Linked DNA regions of Homo sapiens. The protein of the gene in region 1 purifies or fractionates together with the protein of each later gene. This does not show direct contact. Each region holds a gene or a part of one and is shown in the gene's direction. Other genes may lie near its edges. The genes, in order: LIPG, TMED5, P4HTM, ARL8A, ITIH2, GALNT18 and NAAA.

The links.
Region 2: the proteins of LIPG (region 1) and TMED5 purify together in Homo sapiens (affinity purification with mass spectrometry; 2 studies listed by BioGRID and IntAct, with this or other methods). This does not show direct contact.
Region 3: the proteins of LIPG (region 1) and P4HTM purify together in Homo sapiens (affinity purification with mass spectrometry; one large-scale study listed by BioGRID and IntAct). This does not show direct contact.
Region 4: the proteins of LIPG (region 1) and ARL8A purify together in Homo sapiens (affinity purification with mass spectrometry; one large-scale study listed by BioGRID and IntAct). This does not show direct contact.
Region 5: the proteins of LIPG (region 1) and ITIH2 purify together in Homo sapiens (affinity purification with mass spectrometry; one large-scale study listed by BioGRID and IntAct). This does not show direct contact.
Region 6: the proteins of LIPG (region 1) and GALNT18 purify together in Homo sapiens (affinity purification with mass spectrometry; one large-scale study listed by BioGRID and IntAct). This does not show direct contact.
Region 7: the proteins of LIPG (region 1) and NAAA purify together in Homo sapiens (affinity purification with mass spectrometry; one large-scale study listed by BioGRID and IntAct). This does not show direct contact.

Annotation. Positions count from the first base shown.
Region 1 is NC_000018.10:49,593,057-49,596,370, forward strand, and holds part of LIPG (endothelial lipase isoform 1 precursor), read left to right. Parts: 3' UTR 1-3,314. UniProt on the Homo sapiens protein: Exerts both phospholipase and triglyceride lipase activities. More active as a phospholipase than a triglyceride lipase.
Region 2 is NC_000001.11:93,156,414-93,159,913, reverse strand, and holds part of TMED5 (transmembrane emp24 domain-containing protein 5 isoform 1 precursor), read left to right. Parts: intron 1-1,028; coding exon of another isoform or gene 1,029-1,099; intron 1,100-3,430; coding exon 3,431-3,500. UniProt on the Homo sapiens protein: Potential role in vesicular protein trafficking, mainly in the early secretory pathway. Required for the maintenance of the Golgi apparatus; involved in protein exchange between Golgi stacks during assembly.
Region 3 is NC_000003.12:48,993,241-48,996,740, forward strand, and holds part of P4HTM (transmembrane prolyl 4-hydroxylase), read left to right. Parts: intron 1-3,344; exon of another isoform or gene 3,345-3,500. UniProt on the Homo sapiens protein: Catalyzes the post-translational formation of 4-hydroxyproline in hypoxia-inducible factor (HIF) alpha proteins. Hydroxylates HIF1A at 'Pro-402' and 'Pro-564'.
Region 4 is NC_000001.11:202,138,238-202,141,737, reverse strand, and holds part of ARL8A (ADP-ribosylation factor-like protein 8A), read left to right. Parts: intron 1-3,289; coding exon 3,290-3,370; intron 3,371-3,500. UniProt on the Homo sapiens protein: Plays a role in lysosome motility. In neurons, mediates the anterograde axonal long-range transport of presynaptic lysosome-related vesicles required for presynaptic biogenesis and synaptic function. May play a role in chromosome segregation.
Region 5 is NC_000010.11:7,706,316-7,709,815, forward strand, and holds part of ITIH2 (inter-alpha-trypsin inhibitor heavy chain H2 precursor), read left to right. Parts: intron 1-885; coding exon 886-918; intron 919-2,706; coding exon 2,707-2,876; intron 2,877-3,500. UniProt on the Homo sapiens protein: May act as a carrier of hyaluronan in serum or as a binding protein between hyaluronan and other matrix protein, including those on cell surfaces in tissues to regulate the localization, synthesis and degradation of hyaluronan which are essential to cells undergoing biological processes.
Region 6 is NC_000011.10:11,612,006-11,615,505, reverse strand, and holds part of GALNT18 (polypeptide N-acetylgalactosaminyltransferase 18), read left to right. Parts: intron 1-3,500. UniProt on the Homo sapiens protein: Catalyzes the initial reaction in O-linked oligosaccharide biosynthesis, the transfer of an N-acetyl-D-galactosamine (GalNAc) residue from UDP-GalNAc to a serine or threonine residue on the protein receptor.
Region 7 is NC_000004.12:75,927,514-75,931,013, reverse strand, and holds part of NAAA (N-acylethanolamine-hydrolyzing acid amidase isoform 1 precursor), read left to right. Parts: intron 1-3,500.

The DNA of each region.
Region 1 (3,314 bases):
AGTAGCTGGGATTACAGAGATGCGTCACCATGTCTGGCTAATTTTTGTATTTTTAGTAGAGATGGGGTTTCGCCATGTTGGCCAGGCTGGTCAGGCTGGGTTCGAACTCCTGGCCTCAAGTGATCCGCCTGCCTCAGCCTCTGAAAGTTCTGAGATTATAGGTGTGAGCCACCGTGCCTGGCCAATTCTTAAAGTTTGAAAGAATATAGCTGCCCCAACCTAGAGTCTGACAAAAAGTTACTCTAATATAAGGCATATTCTTTATTTGACACTCATCGTTAGCAGAAGTGGACAGCAATTCACTAAAGAACCAGAACAAGAACATCATTTCACTGAAGACGAGAAGAAAAATTATTTCAATTGTAGCAGCTTGAAGGCCTGAAGGTGGATGTTAGGAAGAACAGGGAGCATGGCTGGACACTGGGGAGCATTAGTGAGATTATTAGGTTTGGTTGAATTGGAACTAGATATCAGTGACTTAGACCAGAGGGAAGCTGATTTCTCTATTGGTTAAAGTCCCAGCTGGTAGTAAGGTTCTATTCTACAGGCCAAGAGGGCTGCAGGTTCTTAGTTTTTCACTGTGCCATTCATGGGGTATTCCTCGCATCCCCACAGCCCAGGGGTCCCCTACCAGCCAATGGAAAGCCAGAAAAGGGAAGGGATGAACAGTCTCCTCTTAAAGACATGACTGAGAAGTTGCTTACATTCTATTGGCCAGAAATAAATCCATGGTCACATGACAGGCTGGGAAATACAGTCTTTATTTAGGGTGCCCATGGGCCCTGCTGAAGATCCAATTACTATTTATTTAAAATTGACATATAATAATTGTACATATTTGTGGGGAAAATAGTGATGTTTCGATACATACAAGGTATAGTGATCATGTTGGAATAATTAGCATACCCATCCTTTCAAACATGTATCATTTCTTTGTGTTGGGAACATTCAATATCCTCCTTCTAGTTACTTGAAACCATATTTTATTAACTCTAGTTTTACCCTTCAGTGGTATAGGACACTAGAATTTATTCCTCCTGTCTAGCTGTAATCTTGTTTGTTTCGTTTGGTGTTTTTTGTTTTTTTGTTTTTTTTTGAGATGGAGTCTTGCTCTGTAGCCCAGGCTGGAGTGCAGGGGCATGATCTTGGCCCACTGCAACCTCCGCCTCCTGGGTTCAAGTGATTCTCCTGCCTCAGCCTCCCAAGTAGCTGGGATTACAGGCATGCACCACCACACCCAGCTAATTTTTGTATTTTTAGTAGAGACAAGGTTTCACCATGTTGGCCAGGCTGGTCTTGAACTCCTGACCTCAAGTGATCCACCTACCTCAGCCTTCCAAACTGTCGGGATTACCGGTGTGAGCCACCGGGCCCAGCCACTAGCTGTAATTTTGTATCTTTTAACAATTCCGTCCCTATTTCCCCTTTCCCCCTACCAATTACTATTTATTAAAAGGGAAATTGGATCTTGCCATCCGTTTATCAGGAATTAGTTTTTTCTCTGCTAAAGCCAGCGAGATAGACCAGAGTACCCTTTAAATGATTAAATCCTGTAGTCAATTTTTAGTAATCTTAAATTGATCTATGACTATGAAGTATAATGCATTACATCAGTTTGACTTTATTTCTGGTCTTAAGTGTGAAAACATTTCTAAATGACAAGGAAGCTCTTTATAAAGGGCTTTAGTGATGGTGGAAACTCCACTGTCCATCTCTACCAGGACATTCTGAAACCAGGCTTGATAATGGCTGTAGGGAGTTGGGTTAGACAATAAGAGATAAGTTCTTAACTTGGTTCAGATGTCAGAGGAAAGCAGAAAATGGTGTCTCTGGCATAGTAAAGAAAATTGTTGAAATTTCCCAAAGGAAGAGTCATAGCCTGGATGACTGCAAGTGCCTTCTTTGGCTTGGGGGTTCAGTTACTAGTTAGAGTCAGGGGAACTTCCACAGGACTTCCTTTGACTCTCCAAACAAGCTGAAGCCCCAGACCCCTTGGAAGGATGGATACAAAGTAGGTACTAGAACAGTCTTTGTCATCAAATATGGTATTTCTCAGGTGTCACCTCTGTGTTCAGAGCTACCCTGAGCCCTCTGCCATGTAAGCTCTCTGATGGCACAGATTTTTATCTGGCTTGTTTTCTGCCGTTATCTTAGAAGCTAGAATAGTGTCTGGAACATCATGGGTATTCAATGAATATTTAAATAAATAGATGAAATTAGATATAAGAAACTAGGTGCTTAAACAGGCAGGAGGTAATCTGGGAAAAGAGCAGTTAGTTTGGAATCAGAATTCTTGGTGTGTCATCCAGCATTATGTGAGTTTTAGGCTAAATACAGCCTTTCTGAGTCTCTATCTGCTCATTTAAGAAACAGAGACAATACTGCTCAGGGTTGTTGTGAATGTTAAAGGTACATGGTAAAAAAGAAAGTATTTGTGTTTTGTAAACATTTGAATTGATAAGAGGACAGTGTGAGACAAAAATAAAATCCTGGGTGGGCACGGTGGCTCACCCCTGTAATCTCAGCACTTTGGGAGGCTGAGATGGGAGGATCACGAGGTCAGGAGTGCGAGACCAGCCTGGCCAATATGGTGAAACCACGTCTCTGCTAAAAATACAAAAATTAGCTGGGCGTGGTGGCACGTGCCTGTAGTCCCAGCTACGCCGGAGGCTGAGGCAGAAGAATCGCTCGAACCTGGGAGATGGAGTTTGCAGTGAGCTGAGATCACGCCACTGCACTCCAGCCTAGGCAACTGAGTGAGACTCCATCTCAAAATAAAATAAAATAGAATAGAATAAAATAAAATCCTTTCCACATATATGCGGAAATTTTATGTATGATAAAAGGGGCCTATTAGTCTTTGGGAAAGGAATGGATGGATGATGAGAAAGTAGGCTCATTTGACAAAGAGAAACAAAATTAGATTCCTATTTTAACACGCAACAAAGATGAATTCCAAAATACCTATTGGGTACTATGCTTATTACCTGAGTGACGAAATAATCTGTACAGCAAACTCCTGTGACACACCATTTAACTACATAACAAACCTGCATACGTACCCCTGAAACTAAAGTAGAAGTTAAAACCATCAACCCCCCCAAAACAAAAATGAATTCCATCTGAATAAAAGGTATAAATGTGAAAGTCATCATGCTAATAGATATTATGAAATATAAATTCAAAACCTGTATAAAAACTGAAAAAATGTAAAACGTCACAATTAGAATAAGAAAATTTAAATAGAACAATGAATATTAAATAAACTAAAATGCTAATAAAATGTACTCCTTAGGGCCAGGTGCGGTGGCTCA
Region 2 (3,500 bases), on another chromosome or scaffold:
TTTTTTCTGTGCTTTGGTTAGTAAATTAGTATTCCCCTGGTATTCCATTCAATCTATCGTGGCATTTTAAACCTGCCTTCTGGCCAGCACAAGCTTTCTATTTTAACTTAAAGCTACTGTTCCAGGTATATGTCTTAAAGTTTCTTGAGCTGCTGGCTATATGCCATTTTTGTCCATAGTTTTCTTTCTTAAAACAGGACAGTATATCTTTGTGTGTACGTAAATTTTTTTTTTTTATTCAGACCTCATTCGTTTTAGGTAATTAGAAGGCCTGAAAGTAAAAGATCTGATCATAGGGAACTATATAAAAATAAAATACTTGTTATAACTCTTTGAGTTCAGAGTTCAGCAAAAGACCATATATTCTTCTTCTGACACCTCACTTCCCTCTTTTCATATCTCACTGGTATGTTTCCTGGTTCCATTCTATTATCTTACTATAACATTTTCTTAAGTCAGTTTTGTTATATGTTTAAACTGTGAGTCTGTAGGAAGAAGAGCAAATATGGAGTATCTAGTATTTGCTATAAACAAGGGTTGGCATGTTATAGGCTTCTAAATTAATCTTTCCATTACACTATGAGATAGAGTCTTTGACTCAAGATTCCCATTTTATAGACAAGGAGGCTCAGAGAAGTCAAATAAGTCTCCAGGGATACACATGCAGGGTGGAGACAGGATGGACCAAAACTCTTTGCTTTCTACCATATGCTTAGAACATCCCTGGTACATAACACTATTGTAAGAACTAGCTATTATTAAAATTATTGGTCTTTGTTAACCAAAATGCCTGATACATAATCGATACTCAGTAAACACTGAATACATGTATGAATGGATGAGAGGAAAAAAATGTCTCAACAATAATTTTTTAAGATACTCATTTAAAATGCATTTTAAATGGCATTTTACCTATGCAGAGCTCAGAAAAATATTTGCATAAGCTATTACTAAATAAGATAGAAATAGTAATTTTAAAAGTCAGTTTATATTGATATACTTGGAATTAACTGTTTTCTCTTTGATAGGTGTATAAGAAGTAAAAATGGGCCAGGCACTGCGGTTCACGCCTATAATCCCAGCACTTTCCGAGGCCAAGGTGGGTGGATCACGAGGTCAAGAAATTGAGACCATCCTGGCCAACATGGTGAAACCTTGTCTCTACTAAAAATACAAAAATTAGCTGGTCATGGTGGCACACGCCTGTAGTCCCAGCTACTTGGGAGGCTGAGGCAGAATTGCTTGAACCCCGGAGGCGGAGGTTGCAGTGAGCTGAGATGGCGCCGCTGTACTCCAGCCTGGCGACAGAGACTCCATCTCAAAAAAAAAAACAAAACTAAAAATGTAGTTCATCTTTTAAGTTTCAGAATTTTAAAAATGTTCAAAATGTATGTCAGTCTTTATTTCTCCCCAATTATTTGCTCCCTTTTTGAGATAATAAAATTCACTGTTAGAAAAATAAGTATCTTACTGCTTCCTTGTGTAGAATTACCTCTCATTAAATAATTGGGAGAAAATAATTGAGTTTATAATAGTTCACATTTATTGCATTCTTTTGATATGCCAGGCCAGTGTTCTCAGCACTTTTCATGTACTAATTTTTTTATTCTTAACCACAGTCCTATGACGTAAATATTATTTTACCAATGGGGAAACTGAGGCATAGAACAATTAAGTTGCTGAAGGTTACACAGCTAGTGAACGGCAAAGCCAGGATATACATTCAGGCAGTCCAACTCACTATTAATCACTATACCAGATTTACAAATTTTTTTTTTTTTTTTTTTTTTTGAGACGGAGTCTCACTCTGTTGCCCAGCTGGAGTGCAGTGGCGCGATCTCGGCTCACTGCAAGCTCCGCCTCCTGGGTTCACGCCATTCTCCTGCCTCGGCCTCCTGAGTAGCTGGGACTACAGGCGCCCGCCACCACGCCCGGCTAATTTTTTGTCTTTTTAGTAGAGACGGGGTTTCACCGTGTTAGCCAGGATGGTCTGGATCTCCTGACCTCGTGATCTGCCTGCCTCGGCCTCCCAAAGTGCTGGGATTATAGGCGTGAGCCACTGTGCCCGGCCTACAAATCTGTTTTTTAAACATTAAACAAAGCTTTTATCTTTAGCTATATTAATTTTGTAAGAGCAGCAAACATCTGAGTATGTCACTGGTTTTTCTTAAGTAGGCTTTTTCTTTTTCTTTTAAATGTAATTTCTTTTTTAAAGACAAGGTCTCACTATGTTGCCCAGGCCAGAGTGCAATGGTGTGACCATAGCTTACTGCAGCCTAAAGTACTGGGCTCAACCAAGCCTCCCGAGTAGCTAGGACTACAGGTGTGTACTCGGCTAATTTTTTAATTTTTGTAGAGACAAGGTCTCACTTTTGCCCAGGCTAATCTCGAACCCCTGGCCTACAGTAATCCTGCCTCAGACTCCCAAAGCGCTGTGATTGTAGGTATGAGCCACCGCACCTGGCCCTGCTTTTAACTTTCGCTAATATGGGAAACTAATTTTAACTAGGGTACTGGTAATTCAGATATTATTCATTTTTTTCTTCAGCACTTGGCATAATTAATGATGGGCTGAATTACCTTTATAGAATTAAATAATAAAATATAAACTAGTTTTATTTAATTCTCAAAAAAAGCATTTAGGATCAAACATAAACATCTATAAGGGAGCCAGTGGCAGTTAATAGGCAAAATCAGTAAGAGGCCTGGAAGAAGACATTTAGGACAATCCATCACTGCTTTTGAAAACAAAACTCAGTTTAATCTCAGTTGTAGGGTAGGTTGGCAGTCATATCTGCATATGAATTGAACTCATGATAAAATACTTTTAATAATGTATAAATATTAAAGTTTATTATGAGTTATGTATACAGGTTTTTAATTCTATCCTTTTCCAAAAATGAGGTCACTAACCATAATTTACTGAGTAAATGCCAAACATGTCTAAGTTGTACTTGAACATATATATTTTCAGGTTGCTTCTTTCCCAAGAAATTATAAATTATCTTTCAATACTAAGGAAATTTATGGGTAAGCTGTCCAATTACTATAAACTATGTTATTTGTTTTTTGTTTTGTTGGTTTCTTTTTTTTTTTTTTTTTTTTTGAGACAGGATCTTGCTCTGTTGCCCAGGCTGGAGTGCAGTGGCATGATCATGCCTCACTGCATCTTCAACCTTCCGGGCTCAAGCAATCCTCACACTCTGCTAATTTTTGTTATTTTTTTGTAGAGACAGGATTTTGCCATGTTACCCAGGCTGGTCTCAAACTCCTGAGCTAAAGTGATCTACCAGCCTTGCCCTCTCAAAATGCTGGGATTACAGGTGTGAGGCAACACACTCAGCCTGTTACTTCTTATTTTTACCTTTAGTTGCTTTTCATCACAAATAGAAATACAGGTAACTTAAAACATGTACTTTTTTTTATACAGTGTAGAGACTGAAGTTGGTGATTACATGTTCTGCTTTGACAATACATTCAGCACCATTTCTGAGAAGGTG
Region 3 (3,500 bases), on another chromosome or scaffold:
GTGGTGAGCCAAGATTGTGCCATTGCATCCAGCCTGGGTAACAAGAATGAAACTCCATCTCAAAAAAAAAAAAAAAAAATCTGAGCAACGACTTGTGGGAAGTATGGGATAAAGCCAGATGACTGTCAGGAAAGAGGGGTCCAGGAAGGAACTAATACTCACCCCATTACTACTACACTACTAACGACTACTATGAACAGACACATCTGAGGAGGCACTGTTTTCTCTCAGCAGCCTTCCTGGGATCTGTATATATCTAATTCATATTGATGTTAGGTTAAGTAAGCCATGAAGCCAAAGTCTCCCTAATAAACAGCTTGTCCTATAAAGCAGAGAATGAGCCGGGCTTGGTGGTTCATGCTTCTAATCCCAGCACTTTGGGAGGCTGAGGCGGGTGGATCACTTGAGGTCAGGAGTTCGAAACCAGCCTGACCAACATGGTGAAACCCCGTCTCTACTAAAAATACAAAAATTAGCTGGGCATGGTGGTGGATGCCTGTAATCCCAGCTATTCGGGAGGCTGAGGCAGGAGAATTGCTTGAACCCGGGAGGCAGAGGTTGCAGTGAGCCAAGATCGTGCCACTGTACTCCAGCCTGGGTGACAGTGAGACTCCATCACAAAAAAAAAAAAAAAAAAAAAGCATAGAATGAGAAACCCAGATCTAAAGTCACCAAGGGCAAATTATGAAAAGCAGAAGAGATTTGACAAAAGGTAAACTGGTTCTGGTTAAGCCATCAGATGGATCTCTGTTTCTGCAGATGAACTTCAAAAGGCATAACCAAGAGATTGCAATCAATGATTACAGGAAGTCCAGATGTGTGAGAGGGAAGAGGGTGGTCATGGTGGGGCAGTTCCTGAATACTGTGGTATTGGATGACTACAAAGAAGGATGCCTCATCCCCAGCAGGAGCAGTGTCTGTCTTCTGGGCCTGCCTGTCCCTCTGTCCATTGGTCTGCTACCCAGTTATTCTAAATGGGCAAGCAGGGCCCAAGAAGAGTGGACCTGCTATAGATTCTGCCCCCTCTGCCATGCTGTTCTTGGATCTAAACCTGTGACCTGCCAGCTTCAGGGACCCAAGATACCTGGGATCGAAGAGTGGATGCTAAAGATGTGAGCTGGGGCAAGGGAACTGGGGTCCACCCCAAGGTGCCTCCATCTCTGTAGAAGGGAACCCTAGCACTTCTCAAGGAAGACCCCGTGCAGCCCCCAGTCTCTCCTTGAGAAATATTTCCTGTTTCCCACCCTTGTTTCTAAAGACACTTGGCAACTGGGACCTGGGCCACAAAAGGCCCACGCTTGAGCTCCTGGCAAATACTTCCATGACTGGTAGGTCATTTTCCCTTGGTAGGGAAATAAAGGATTTGGAATATTGGGTGTCAGCTGAGGGCACCATCCTGTTCAGAACAGAAGTGCTCCATTTCTGAACCATTGCCACCTCTCTGGGGACATTGCTTTCTTACATGTGGCCCACTTCTCCCGCTGTCCTACCCCACCCCACACTGATTCTGTCATAGCAGATCAGATCTCATGGCTCTCTCTTTTTGTTTTGTTTTGTTTTGTTTTGTTTTTGTTTTGAGATGGAGTTTCACTTTTGTTGCCCCGGCTGGAGTGCAATGGTACCATCTCGGCTCACTGCAACCTCCGCCTCCCGGGTTCAAGTGATTCTCCTGCCTCAACCTTCCAAACAGCCGGAACTACAGGCACCCGCCACCACACCTGGCTAATTTTTTGTATTTTTAGTAGAGATGGGGTTTCACCATGTTGGCCAGGCTGGTCTCAAACTCCTGACCTCAGGTGACCCACCCACCTTGGCCTCCCAAAGTGCTGGGATTACAGACATGAGCCACCGTGCCCAGCCGCTCATCACTCTCTTAAATGTCTCCAACATTTTCCATTTCACTTCTAAGTCTCATTTGATGCCTAAAAGCCCTCTCGCCTCTTAGACTCATCTCCTGCCCCCACCCCCGACTCCATTTACTCCCTGCTGATCCTCAGACACCACAAGCTCACTACTGCCTCAGGGCCTTTGTATGTACTATTCCCTCACTAAAAGGCTTAGACCTGGCTCTTCCCACAGAGCGTGCCTTCAGCTCCAGCAGGCCTCTGCTCACACATCCCATCCTCAGAGACCTCTTGTCCTCAAACCCATCTTAAAAGGTTCCCAGGCACCCTGTTGCATCAGCCTGCTGGGTTTTGTTCTCAAATGCTTAGGACTGCTGGAAACTATTTTCCGTATTTATTTGTGTCATTTGTACCTCTGCCCACAAAGGTGAGCTGCATATGTAAGAGGACTGATTTGTCTCAGCTGTGTGTCCAATGGCCAGAGTTGTATCTCCTGCTGATTTTTTTTTTTCTTTTGAGATGGAGTCTCGCTCTGTTGCCCAGGCTGGAGTGCAGTGGTGTGATCTCGGCTCACTGCAACCTCCGCCTCCTGGGCTCAAGCCATTCTCCTCCTGCCTGAGCCTCCTGAGTAGCTGAAATTACAGGCGCCTGCCACCATGCCCAGCTAATTTTTGTATTTTTACCAGAGGCAGCGTTTCACCATGTTGGCCAGGCTGGTCTCGAACTCCTGACCTCAAGTAATCCGCCTGCCTCAGCCTCCCAAAGTGCTGGGATTACAGGCATAAGCCTCCGTGCCCAGCCTCCCGCTAATTCTTGGCTGGCTGGAGGAGTTCACTGGGTGCTCTCAGCCCAGTCCAGCATCTGCCTGCTGGCTTAGAGCATCCTCCACGTATCCTTCTGACTTGGCACCCTCTTCAAAGGCAGCAGGGGGTACTACCAGTGGCCAGCAAGAGTTTTAATCCATTTTTCTTAACAATTTGAGGTAAATGAGTAATTGCCACCAGTATACAAAACAATTTATTTTAAAATCATGACTGCTTTATCTTAGGATTTCTAAATGTATTCTTTTTCAGCTTAAGAAAACAATTAGGCAGCTACATCAGACCATAGTCCTCCTCATGACAAACACTGGAGGCCCAAAAGTAGAGAAACAATTTTAGTGTGCGTATCAGTTCAAGGTTGTTGTTTTGTTTTGTTTTGTTTTTTGAGACGGAATCTCGCTCTATGGCCAGGCTGGAGTGCAGTGTGGTGCGATCTTGGCCCACTGCAACCTCCGCCTCCCGGGTTCAAGCAATTCTCCTGCCTCAGCCTCCCATGTAGCTGGGACTACAGGTGCGTACCATCTCGACTCACTGCAACCTCCGCTTCCTGGGTTCAAGTGATTCTCCTGCCTTAGCGTTCCGAATAGCTGGAAATACAGGCACCCGCCACCACGCCCAGCTAATTTTTGTATTTTTAGTAGAGATGGGGTTTCACCATGTTGGCTAGGATGGTCTCAATCTCTTGACCTCGTGATCCGCCTGCCTCAGCCTCCCGAAGTGCTGGGATTACAGGTGTGAGCCACTGCGCCTGGCTAGTTCGAGTTTTTAAGGAATTTAGCTCAGGCTGCTGCATTGCCACACACACCCCTGCTCTTTCATAGGCCTGCTGCTTGGC
Region 4 (3,500 bases), on another chromosome or scaffold:
TCTTGGAGTGCCCAAGGGGACTTAGGAACAATGGGTGGACATTCTAGGAATGATAGATTTTTTTTTCTTTTTTTTCTTTTTTCTTTTTTTTTTTTGAGACAGAGTGTTGCTCTATCACCCAGGCTGGGAGTGCAGTGGTACAGTCTCGGCTCACTGCAACCTCCGCCTCCCAGGCTCAAGCAATTCTCCTGCCTCAGTCTCCCGAGTAGCTGGGATTACAGGCATACACCACCATGCCTGGCTAATTTTTGTATTTTTAGTAGAGATGGGGTTTCGTCATGTTGGCCAGGCTGGTCTCGAACCCCTGACCTCAGGTGATCTGCCTGCCTCAGCCTCCCAAAGTGCTGGGATTACAGGTATGAGCCACCATGTCCGGCCGGATTGTTAACTCAATATAAAGAACTTTCTGATAGTTGGAACTGACCCAAGAGGGGATGGGGCAGAAGGGACTGAAGTCTGAGACAAGAGGTTGGGCTGCATGACTTCAGGTTACTTCCAACCTTAAATGAGGAGCCTATGAGACAGGGAGGCATTAGCAGGGAAATTAAGTCATAATCTGATTCCACCTTAGCTCCGATTCACAGCTGAACAAGACCTACTGGTGCCGGGGAGCCTGGCTCCTTGAAGGTCCTCCCAGCATCCCCCTCTGCCAAGGTCACATTCTGCCAGGCTGGGCTTCTCATTTACTTGGTAGCCTGTGGATCTTCTAGTTGCCAAAGAGCAGTGATGGTTCCCCATGCTATATCGAAACCATTTCCAAGCATGTTGTGAGTCTTATTTACAGTTCCTAGGAGACCGAAACCCTTCTCCCCAGTTTTACATTCAGAAACACTGAGGTCCAGAGAAGTTCAAGTTTCTTATCCAAGCACCCCCTGGGATGAGAGACAAACAAGAACTGGGCCTCCTTCCTCAGACTCTATTGTTGGGGATGGGGTAGACTGCAGCAGGCTGCCGGGGTTTGGGTAATTACAGCACACTTAATTCTCCCTGCTTAGCTAGAAGAAGCCATTCCCTCTTCCTCAGTGGTTCCTAACTTTGGGGGCTCTCAGAACTTTTTGATATCTGAAAGAAGTGAGAGACCCTTTCTCCAGAAAAATGTACACACAAACAAAACTTTGCACACACACAGATTGTGTACAGTTTCAGGGGGTTCAGGGGATCTCTGAAGCCCAACTGTGGACCTCAGGTTGGAAACCGCTGCTGGACCTTGTCATTGGGTGTCAGTCCTGGGTACTCAGTTCTTATATCATCCTAAGGCCCTGATGAATAGGTGGTTCCTGCAGATAAAAGGGAATTGGGCTGGGCGCGGTGGCTCACGCCTGTAATCCCAGCACTTTGGGAGGCCGAGGTGGGCGGATCACGAGGTCAGGAGATCGAAACCATCCTGGCCAACATGGTGAAACCCCGAATCTACTAAAAATACAAAAAAAAAAAAAAAAAATTAGCTAGGCATGGTGGCACGCGCCTGTAGTCCCAGCTACTTGGGAGGCTGAGGCAGGAGAACTGCTTGAACCCAGGAGGCAGAGGCTACAGTGAGCCGAGATCACACCACTGCACTCCTGCCTGGGCGAGAGAGTGAGACTCCGTCTCAAAAAAAAAAAAGGGAATCAAAGCAGTCTATTCAGATGGGATATCAGGGGTCTTCATGTGGACATGGAGGCACCAAATAAGAGCCAATCATCTCCTACATCTTGGCTAATGGTCAGGGCCCCTGATCTCTTTATGTAACCCAAGGCAAATTATTCCTACCAGCTGGTGGGAGAAAAAGGCATGGTAAAGGAACAGGGCTTGGCCGGGCACCGTGGCTCACCCCTATAATCCCAGCGCTTTGGGAGGCCCAGGTAGGCAGATCACTTGAGGTCAGGAGTTCAAGACCATCCTGGCCAATGTGGTGAAACCCTGTCTCTACTAAAAATACAAAAATTAGCTGGGTGTGGTGGCACATGCCTGTGGTCTCAGCTACTGGGGAGGCTGAGGCAGGAGACCCTCGCTTGAGCCCAGGAGGCAGAGGCTGCAGTGAGCTGAGATCACATCACTGCACTCCAGCCTGGGCCATAGAGCGAGACTCTGTCTCAGAAAAAAAAAAAAAAAAAAAAAAAAAAAAAGGAACAGGGCTATCACCCTCAGGTTCAATGTTGAATGAGCCTCATCTTTTTTTTTTTCTCAAGCCGGAGTCTTGCTCTGTCACCCAGGCTGGAGTACAATGGCATGATCTCGGCTCACTGCAACCTCCACCTCCTGGGTTCAAGCGATTCACCTGCCTCAGCCTCCCAAGTAGCTGGGATTACAGGCACACGCCACCACACCCGGCTAATTTTTTGTATCTTTAGTAGAGATGGGGTTTCACCATGTTGATCAGGATGGTCTCAAACTCCTGACCTCGTGATCTGCCCCCTCAGCCTCCCAAAGTGCTGGGATTACAGGTGTGAGCCATCGCGCCCGGCCGAGCCCCATCTCTTTAGCCTGCTTCCAAGGGATAAGCAGAAGTGTCCTACCTGTGAACATGGAGATATGACCTGGGAGGGAGTTGGGTCTGGCCTTATTTGAAGACTGTAGGTAGTTTAGAAGAATCCAGAAATCCTAGAGACAATACAGAATGGATTTTGGAAAATGGAATTACAGTCAAACCCCCAGTATTCAGCAAACATTTACTAATGGTGTTACTATAGACCTGGGTCCTCTCCCAGGAAGTGTTCTTTCTAGTGAGGAGACACATAGATAAATAAGCAGACGATATAGAGTGTAGGTTATCCTTCCCAATAACTGGAGTACAGTACAAATAAACTGAACCATGGATAATCCAGAAATTGCTTGGCATGCACTGCATTTTCAGGATGACCAATATACTCTGCCCTAAAAAGTTTGATTTTTTAGTTTGAAAATTCATCTGCTTTCTTTGAGATCCTCCTTAACTATTAGAACATGACTTGCTTCAAGTTCTCTTGCTGGAAGGTAATTTCTTCTTCCTCTCCACTGGAGAGAAAGTGGCGTCAGTTACTACAGAGAGATGTAGGTTAGACTTGAGGAAGAATTTTCCCCTAGTCTAGGCAAAGAGATTGAGACTGTCTGACAAAAGCGGGTCTTTTCACAGGGCATCCCCAGGTGTAGGCGGGACACATAGGTTGGTGATAGCCCATCCTGCCTGAAAGCACAGGATGTGCAAGAGTACCCCACAGTGGGAAGTCTAGGAAGCTCTGGCCTGGCCTCTGCATGGTTCTCGCAGCCTCTTGGTCTGCGGTGGGGGCATATCGATTTTTGCACTGTTTCCCATTCTGAGTCTTCTTTCCAGTCAGGACAGTTCAACGAGGACATGATCCCCACCGTGGGTTTCAACATGCGCAAAATCACCAAAGGGAATGTGACTATCAAGGTGAGGGCCCAGAAGCTTGGGGGGTGCAGAGGACTGTTTTTGTGTGTGTGTGTGTGTGTGTGTGTGTGTGTGTTGGGGAGGGCAACGGAGGCCCCTGGGAGGAGCGAGCTGAAGTGGGGCAGAGGCCAGG
Region 5 (3,500 bases), on another chromosome or scaffold:
AACACCCGACTTCTTGGATCTATTATTAACAGCTCACCAAACATTACATGTTCACCCACCACCCTTAAGCCATTCACTTTCAAAGGCAAGGGAATCGCCTTTGTTCATTTCCTCAGGACAGTCAAGTGTATGGATAATCTCCTAGCATGGTGGTTAAAAGCATAGAATTTTCTAGGTGCCAGTCACTGTGTTTGCCTCAGGGGTTACACTGTGGAGGAAATACATGAAAATCCCTGCTTTTATGTAGCTTAGTTTAAAGGAAGAGACAGACTTTAGTCAAATAATCCCTCAAATAGAATGAATCATTATGAAACAAGGTGAGCACTCTGCAGGAAGGAATATGCTGCTGCAAAAACACTTAGTAAAGGAAACCGACCTAGTCTTGGGGTGTTAGAGATTTTCACTGGAGGAATTCTGCTGGAGCTGAGATCTGAAGGGTGAGTAGGAGTTCTCCATATGGGGGTTGAGGAACCTAGCAGGGGCACTGCAAACAGTGGGAACAGCATGCCCACAGCCTCATGGCCGAATGGAGGATCAAAGTCTCCATTCAACTGAGTAAAAAATAGAGCAAATAGCATCAAGGGGATATACGCTACCCAGGATGCATTTGGTTGAATATTTTTATTTAAAAATTACTTGTTCTAGCATTATATCCAAGAATGACACACACGCCACCAGAACTGGTTGAGAAACTTATTGAGAAACTCACCAGTGGGAAAATAGTTTTCAAGAATATTCAATATTTATGTCTCAACTCCAGTGAATGAATAACAGCTCAGTATTGAAGAAAAATAAAATTTCTTTTTTGACTGAGAAAACGGTTTTGGCTCTCAAGGTAATAAGTGACATACAGTTGAAGAATGATTGTCTAACTTCCTTTCACAGAGAAGCCTTCCAGGAGAATCGGAAGAAATGATGGTAAGTTGACTTGATGTTGTTACAGATTGAATGATTTTCCTGTTAATAATTACCAGGAAATCAATCTGGGTGTCTCTTTTTTCTTCATCACCGAGTATTTACCTGACTTTCGAAATACTGCCTTGCCCAACTGTTTGCAAGTGTTTCTAAAATTCAGCATTGAAGAGTGCAGTCTTTACAGACAGGAGAGAGGCCACCAAGAGCTGAAGGGGCCCTTCTCTTCATTTTCTTGAGTTTTGCCATATATCATAGGTTCCTTCCCACTGTATAAATTTATGTATTTATTCCTACTCAACCTTTTTGATTTATGTATTTATTTTTACGTTTTCATTTTTATTTTTATTTTTTTGAGACAGAGTTTCACTTTTGTTGCCCAGGCTGGAGTGCAATGGCATGATCTCAGCTCACTGCAACCTCTGCCCCCTGGGTTCAAGAGATTCTCTGCCTCAGCCTCTCAAGTAGCTGGGATTACAGGCATATGTCTCCTCGCCCAGCTAATTTTTGTGTTTTTAGTAGAGATGGGGTTTCACCATGTTGGCCAGGCTGGTCTCGAACTCCTGACCTCGGGTGATCCACCTCCCTCAGCCTCCCAAAGTGCTGGGATTACAGGCATGAGCCATTGCTTCCAGCACCATTTTGATTTAAAGTATGACACCTGACAGCTTTGGAAAATAAAAGAGTGCCCGTGGAAAGGAACTTTTAAACACAAAACGGCCCAGTTCCCTGAGATGTTCAGAGTAGACCATCCTGTGGCAAGAAAACAGCCTGAGGACAAGTGGCTTATGTTGTGCTTCCTGCCCTGAATTGGCAGAAACTGCCAGAAGTGCACACTTCAGGGGGAGGAAGGACACATAGATTAGCCTGGATTTTATTTTAGCTTGAGGTGAGTTGCATGGTTAATTAGTCGAAAGGTTTAATGTTGGACTACAAAGTTTGGGGAATGAGACCTGGTATTGAGATAAGTAAATTCTTTTGGAGAAAAAAGCAAAATCTAATGGGTCTCATAGTTGTCCATAGACCTGAAGGAGCTTGCAGCTCTCAGTCACCTCCTGAAAGGTGTGGGTTTCTAGGACCTTGCCTTTGAGCACACTTACATATGTGATTCTTCACACAGGAGCTGCTTTAAATCAGTAGTGATCGGGTAAGGAGGTCCAGAGTGTTGGACCAATACTTGCATCAGAATGCCCTGTCCAAGATCAATGTCTCTTGCTTACACCCGTCACTGTTCTCCTAGCTTGTTTTGACTTGGGGGAGGAGAAAAGGACTGCAGATGAAATTGTAATAGAGGAGATTAAAGAAGGTAGAGAGCTGTAAGGGGGGGTTGGTGGAGGCCATATGTGTGTTTCCACCCCACAGCACCCCTGTGTGACCCCTACTAAAGATACAACCAAGTTCCTCTTTCAACCTCGCAATCCAGTATCCTCTCCCCAGCTGATGGTCTTGCATTTGGAGTTATTACCTGGACTTCCTCAATCCAATCTGGCTTCCCACACCGTTTTCTACTTGTATTCTAATTTTTGAAAAATCATTATTTATAGACTCATAGGGCTGAAAAATGCCTTTTAGCTCAAAGTATCTTGAAACCAAGGCAGACTTCTGCTCATTGCGGGTTCCAAGAAGTTAGGAGAATGCTTAACCATACATGAATTCTGTCCTTACCAAGGCCCTGGAATTGTTCTGCTAGTAAAACAAGTAAAATGTAGTGTTGTTAACATCAAATGCACTACATTTGATGAAGTTCTGTGTGATTTTTCTATCAGTACAGTTATGCTTTCTTGCCAATTTCAGGAAGAGGTTGATCAAGTAACTCTTTATAGCTATAAAGTCCAGTCTACTATTACTTCTCGGATGGCCACCACCATGATCCAGAGCAAAGTGGTGAACAATTCCCCGCAGCCTCAGAATGTCGTGTTTGATGTTCAGATCCCCAAAGGAGCATTCATTTCCAACTTCTCCATGTGAGTAACTTCTGTGTAGAGCCAGAAATTGTAGGTGCTCTACTCACAGAATCAAAACCCCTCATAGTTAGAATGGACTTTAGTGGTCAACTGTCCCAGAGGACCGGCTGGATGTCAAGGGTCATTGTGAGGTTGGTCCCAATAATTTTCTCCTCTTCAAAGCGTTAGAACTTGTGAATTATTTGCTTTTTGTTTCTAATAAGCTAAAGCAAACTTAAGGCTATCTCTGTGGTAACAACCTCATACTTACTTGCATTTTAATATACTTTCTAGGGAGGAGAAAAATATACTGGGTTGCCCTGGCTTATAGGAAACCACATAAGAGCGTGTGCACAGCAGGTCAATGCCATCTGCCATATGTTTCTCTATGGGAAAAAAAAAACAAGTTGAGAACCACAGATTAAATCTAATTACTTATCCAGTGCTTGACCTCCTCTATAACACCGCTGACAAGTGTGTGATGATTTCCTTGATGATAAACTCACTTTTCCCAAGGCAATCAACTCAGTGATTGACAGCTCTGTTAAGAGTCCTTTCTTATACTTCAAATATTTTCCACTTTCTACCCAATGACTCTAGTGATAATCACATAGAATTTTTAAAAAGCTCTCTACAAAATACATA
Region 6 (3,500 bases), on another chromosome or scaffold:
TCTGAATACCATGATTAATAATGTATTACATTATGTGACTAATTTCTAAATCCGTTATCTTACTTCATTGAGTCAAGATCATCCCAACAATGGAGAAATGGGTTATTAACTGCATTTTGTTTCCTGAAAGTTTGTTAGTCATATTATGTGCATATTAATGTATACCAGGTCAGTAACAGCAGGTTGTTCGCCATGACTACAAATCATTTATGGTTGCTAAGAATCAGCAGATGTCCTGAGCTTGGATGTTTTTCTGTCTCCTATAGCTTATGGATGTTACTTAGAATTGGCTCGTGTTCTTCTCATCTGAGCTTTGACTTGGCAGCGTTTGTGAAGAAGAGGATATGATGTTTGCTGAGTGCATGGAGTTTATTTGAGGAAAGAGTGTCATTTAAATAGTAAAGCTATTTGTCCTCTGGAATGAACTGTTGCATGTGAAATTATATTAGTAACAGTGATTGACATTTTGAGAGAGTTCAATAGCAGGACTTAGGAGTTGAGCCTAATTACCTTTGTTACTAGTTCAGAACCACAGCTTTATGAAGAAGAAAAGCCTTGCCAAAGGACACAACTTTTCCCCGTGACCAAAGAATCTTCATTTTTAGCCAGAAGTGTGTAGGCTGTAAAATAAATGAATTCCACATTCTTTCCCACTCACTTGACATAAATTGTTATTTTCCCTTGATAAGTAGGTTGGTGGAGAATCTCAAGGAGAATTCAGAATGAAAAGTGTCAGAGAGCCACGTCTGGTTTTGTCATTTATGAGGGCCTTGAAGTTCAGCTTTAGTCACTTGGGTTAGGCTGGCCTATGTTTTCCCAAAGGTATTTATGGGATTCAGAGTCACAAACAGGGTTACTGGAGCGTCTTCATTACCATCGTATAGGATTTCTGACCTCACTTCACTTGAATAGCTGAATGTGCTTGATATGCTTGAATGTTTGTACCCTCCAAATCTCATGTTGAAATGTGGTCCCCAGTGTTTGAGGTGGGGCCTAGTGGGAGGTGTTTGTATGAATGGCTTGGTGCTGTCTTCCTGGTAATGAATGAGTTCTTGCTGTATTTGTTCATTCAAGAGCTGGTTGTTTAAAGAGCCTTGCTGCTCCTCCTCCCTCCTCCTCCTCCTCCTCCTCCTCCTCCTCCTCTTCTTCTTCTTCTCCTCACTCTCTTGCCTCTCTCTCTCACCCCTCTCTCACTATGTGACATACCTGCTTCCCTGTTACCTTCTGCTGTGATTGTAAGCTTCCTGGAGTCTCCCCAGGAGCCTAGCAGATGCTGGACTTCGAACAGCTTGCAGAACTATGAGCCAAATTATAAATTTATAATTTTATAAATTACCAAGCCTCAGGTACTCCTTTATAGCAATGCAAAATGGACTAATACAAAGCTATTGTCTTGATTTGGGTCTTGAGGGTCTCCTTTGGTTTGTGGCAGAAAGCCAAGCTTGGCTTTTTGTTAGCTGGGTTCTATCTGGGAGATGGGGACAGACAGGCTGCCCTGTGGAGAAGCACATTGCCAAGCAGTACAGCTGGAGGTGATGTTACACAGAAAGTTCCTGGAGGGAAAACCCGGCTGAATGTGAGTGATAAATGTAACCAGAAGGCAGCATGGTGGGCTTTGGGGAGAGATGGAATTATGCATGAAGCGGAAGGGCAGAAGCCATACAAGTTGGATGACACTCAAGTCAGGAGCAAGAGGCAGAGTGACTGAGGTCCACTGGTGGCTAAGCCACCATCAATGAATGGTGGACCATGCTGTTTATGCTGGCCTGGAATGTCTCTTGAAGGGTGGAGCTTCTGCCTTGGATTTGGCAGGGATGTGGTCATTTCATGGCTCCTACAATTGTTATTGAATCTCACTTGCCTTTGGGGTTAGAGTCAGCTCCATCTGTAATGCAATGCTTGAGCCCAGGGGTCCTTGATGTTTCCCCCTTCCTCACACATAGGCCTACATACAAGGCATGTGCCCTAGGGCAGGGCTAGGAGGATGCACCTCCTAACACATTGCATTCATTCTTACTCCACCCTTTATTTTCCTACTTGAGAAGGCATATTAGTATGCAAGGGAATGTAACAACCTTGAAATCCCTTTAATTTATTAGAGTTAAAGCTAATCATTCATAAGCTTTGGTACTTAAATTATTGTTACTCACTAATTACCTCACAACTGCTCCACAGCACAGTATGTTGTGGCAGTGATTGGGAATGACTGCTGTTCTGGAATCTTCTCTGTGGATCTGTATACCTTTTATAGATCCCCTGTAGTTCCAGTGCAGCCAACTGGAACTTTAAGCAAGAGGATTCCTTGTTATATGAACACTTAAGCTTTGGTGGTTTTTCTGACTACACGATTATGGATTAAAATATGTTGCTAGACAGTTCGTCCCAGTGGGGATGCAGTACTGAGATGTAGTTCTCTTTCACTGCCTGACATTCAATTTCAGTTTTTGGAAGGTTTATTTTTGGGAGATGAAGCTGTCCTTAATGATGCTAGTGGAAACCCCTGAGTGTCCAGCCACCATAAACATTCAGTGGCTTCCCTTATGGAGCCACTGCTAAAATGGTTTTAGAACCAACAGGCATACTTTGCTGGGCTACTTTCCATTGCCACCATCCTTTAAGAGCTCACAGAAATACAGTGTTTGGGAAGATCCAGAGAAGTGGCATCTGCACTCTTCACCTTGGGACAGGTGAGAACAATGAAAAATGATGCCTACAAGGAGGCTTGTGGCCAGTTCTTTAGCGTGAATAGGTTCATTCTACAAATGCACTGAGTTTAAGTCTCAGAGCAGAGTTCCCTGATTAAGATTGTTGAGTGCTGCATCTTAACAAGCTCTGGTGCTTTGTTGGGCTTCGCCAGTCTGACTTGTGCATCCATCTCTGTCCCCTGGGAACTTGGAGTTAAAGGCCATTGAGATCCCAGAGGAGCAGGAAGGTAATTCAGGGACTCTGGCAAGACAGGATTCGAAGCTTGGCTTAATAAATGTTGTGCTAGCGGCATCTGGGGATTTAGGAGAACAGTACCAAAATTGCTTAGGCCAATGGATATGAGAGTTAGAAAGCTAAGGAGAGATTTGAAGCGACAAATGAGAATCCTAGCTAAACCCTTGATTTATTTTAAGAGCAACAGGCATATAGAGAATTAAAGATTGATTGTATCAAGGGAATGGAGGAAGAGAGCTACAGTATGCTAGCAGGTCAGGGACTGGCCCAGGTGCTGCCCAGGCATGATTACTTATTTATTTATTTCAATGAACAAATAAAATTGTAATTTTTAAAATTAGTGATTCCTTTTCATCTTCACAACATGGTAAGATTACCTTTTTTCTTACCTTTTTAGAGGTAAGAAAATGAAGACTTAGAGTTTGTTCAAGGTAGGTCACAGGGCTGATGGGTGGTAGAGCCAAGAAGGGAAACTGGCTACAAAACCAATGCTCTCTACAGAATAGGAAGGAGGATGAATGTTTCTCGTAGAGAGGAATGGGAGATCATCTTATCAAACA
Region 7 (3,500 bases), on another chromosome or scaffold:
GGAAGCTGTGATAGAGAGTGAAGGAGGAGGTGGGGTGGTTAGTACAGGTCAGAGGGTCAGAGAAGGCCTGACCCATGTGATCCGGGAGCTAGTTCTGCAGAAGCCAGGGGAAGACCATTTCTGGTGGTCTTACCGCAAGGATGAAGGCCGTAGGTAGTAATAATAAGCTTGGTGGATTTCAGAAGCCAAAGAAAGTCAGTGTGGTTATGGCATGGGAGTAAGTGGGTAGTGACATTAGAAGTGAAGAAGAGGCTGAGGCCATGGTGCAGGGCCACAATGAAGAGTTTGGTTTTTAAGCATAATGGAAGCTGTAGGGGGATTGTAGGCCAGGGAGTGAACAGATGTGATTTATATTTTTAACTATTACTTTTGCTGCTCTGTAGAGATTGGGTTGTTTTAGGTTAAGATGGAAGCAGAAGACCATTTGGAAACTACTGTGATAATCTAGGGGATATATGATGCTGTTATACAAGCCACATTTGTAAAGCACTTTCTGGTTTACCATGTACATCCTCACATGTCTTCTTCTTAGACCCTCACAACAGTCCTGTTAGGCAGGGCTGTTATTTTTAACTCCATTCGTTAGGCAGAGAAAGAAATAGGCTGTGAGATGAAATGACAGCTAGTAGTGGGAGAGGAAGTTCTCAGATTGCTCTCCTGGGTCCTGACCCAATTGCTCTGTTCATTGACATCCCCACTGCCATTCCCCAGATCTCAGGGGAACACCATTTAGTTCCACAGTATGTGGGAAATCTAGAAATAAGTGAGCTCTGTGTCTGTCCTCAGCGTGCAGCTGAATCAAGGAGAAGGATATATACAAGGAGTATCTTGAAGTTTAGTGTTGCTCGTCTGATGAACCCTGATTGACTTCATGGTGTTGTTTTTTTGGGGTTTTTGTTTTGTTTTGTTTGTTTGTTTTTGTTTTTTTGAGACAGTCTCGCCCTGTTGCCCAGGCTAGAGTGCAGTGGGCGATCTCAGCTTACTGCAACCTCTGCCTCCCGGGCTCAGCCGATTCTCATGCCTCAGCTTCCTGAGTAGCTGGGATTACAGGAGGTGCCACCACACCCGGCTAATTTTTGTATTTTTGGTAGAGATGGGTTTTCACCATGTTGGCCAGGCTGGTCTCGAACTCCGAACCTCAGGTGATCCACCCACCTCGGCCTCCCAAAGTGCTGGGATTACAGGCGTGAACCACCATGCCCGGCCAGTGTTATTGTTTATTCTTATCTTTTTACATAAGGCTTTACCAGGAAGATGGTGATTGAGTATATATCAGTGTCCACAGTAAGCAGTTCTTTATCCTAATGTATTTCTTCCACATTTTCTCATATGTCAGCTATGTATAGTACTGGTTCTCAACCTGTGGTACCCAAACCACAGCATGACAATTACTAAGGTTTTTAATAGAATGCCTATAATTACATGTATATTTATTAAAAATGACTGGCTTTCATTTTGCAACTCAAGTTGTTTACCAAACTTGATTAGTAGAATCTAAGGTATGAGCAGTTAAAAATAACCAAGTTAGTCTACAACATATGCATTTAATGAAATACTGTCAAACTGCTTTTAGCCAGGCATGGTGGCACCTGCCTGTAGTCCCAGCTACGTGGGAGGCTGAAATGGGAGGATGGCTTGGGCCCAGGAGTTACAGGCTGCAATGAGCTGTGATATTAAGTCTCTGGACATTATGGGGGGTGCCAGCAATGCCTCAAAGCCACCCTAGGAAAGGATAAAGATATGAGGAGGACTAATGAATGCCACAGGGCATGGGGAGGCTTAACAAAACACCTGGTGGGTAACACCTGAAGACTCCAGGGCCAGTCTGCCTGGGTTTAAATCTTATTGCTGTAGCTGGGTGACCACGATCAAGGAGTTTAACCTGTCGGTGCTTCAGTTTCCTCATCTCGAAAGCAGGGATGGGCCGGGCGCGGTGGATCATGCCTGTAATCCCAGCACTTTGGGAGGCCGAGGCGGGTGGATCACGAGGTCAGGAGATTGAGACCATCCTGGCTAACACAGTGAAACCCCGTCTCTACTAAAAAAAAAAAACACAAATTTAGCCGGGCGTGGTGGCGGGTGCCTGTAGTCCCAGCTAGGCGTGAGGCTGAGGCAGGAGAATGGTGTGAACCCGGGAGGTGGAGCTTGCAGTGAGCCGAGATCGCGCCACTGCACTCCAGCATGGGCGACAGAGCGAGACTCCATCTCAAAAAAAAAGAAAAAAAAAAAGCAGGGATGATAATAGCTGCTATGAGGATGAAATGAATTAACGAATATGAAATACAGCAGTCCCTGGCACAGAGCAAGGGCCACAGAAGTGTTTTTGTTGTTGTTGCATCTCCAGGCCTGGCCTCCTCTGAGTCCTAGACTGGAGCATCCAGCCATCTTCTCAGCATCTCCACTCTGACGTCTACTAGGCATCTTACACTTGCCTAAGCAGATCTCTTGCTTTTTTCTTTTCCCTATTTTCTACCCAACTCTGCCTCTACTCAAATCTGTCCCTCTCCTCGTTTCCCATGTCTCAGAAAATGGCACCTCTACCCAACCAATTGCTACCAGAAATCATCACTGACCCCTCACTCCCTAAGTCTTATCAGCTCTGACAGCAGAACTAGACTGTACCTGTCCATTCTACCTCCACTGCTGAGCTAGCCCCCATCACACCTGTACTGCCTGATTAGTCCACCTGATCTCCTTGCTACTATTTTTACTTTCTTATAATTCCTTCCCTACCCAGCAACTAGAATGGTCAGGTTGTTCCCCTGCTTAAAACCTACTGTGACAGATATTGCATGATTTCACTTATATGTGGAATCTCCAAGTTTGAACTCATAGAAGCAGAGAGTAGAATGGTGGTTGCTATGCACTGAGGAAAAAGGGAAATGGTCAAAGGGTACAAAGTTTCAATTAGACAGGAGGAATAAGGTCTGGTGATCCACACAGCAAGGTGAGTACAGTTAACAATCATGTATTATGTATTTCAAAATTGCTAGAGTGGGTTTTTAAAAATTAATTTTGTTATTGATACACATTACATGTGCATATTTTGGGAGCACATGTGATGTGTTACATTCATATAATCACATCAGAGAAATGCAAATCACATTTTTATTTCTCTTAATGATTAATGATATGGAGTATCTTTTCATGTGCTTACTGCCCATTTGTATATCTTCTTTGGAGAAATATCTATTCAAGTCCTTTGCCCATTTTTTTTTGTTTGTTTTGAGACAGAGTCTTTCTGTCTCAAATCACACATTCATAAATGCACGATCATGTGTGCACAATCTAATTGTGATATGTTACCTTAAATATTTGTCTTTTCTTTACACTAGAAACATTCAAATTCTAGCTATTTTTTTTGGCGGGGGGGGGGGGGGCATTAAAAATTTTTTTTTAATTTTTTTTTTTAGTAGAAACAAGGTCTCACTATATTACCCAGGCTGGTCTCAAACTCCTGAGCTCACGCAGTCCTCCTGCCTCGGCTTCTTCCCAAAGTG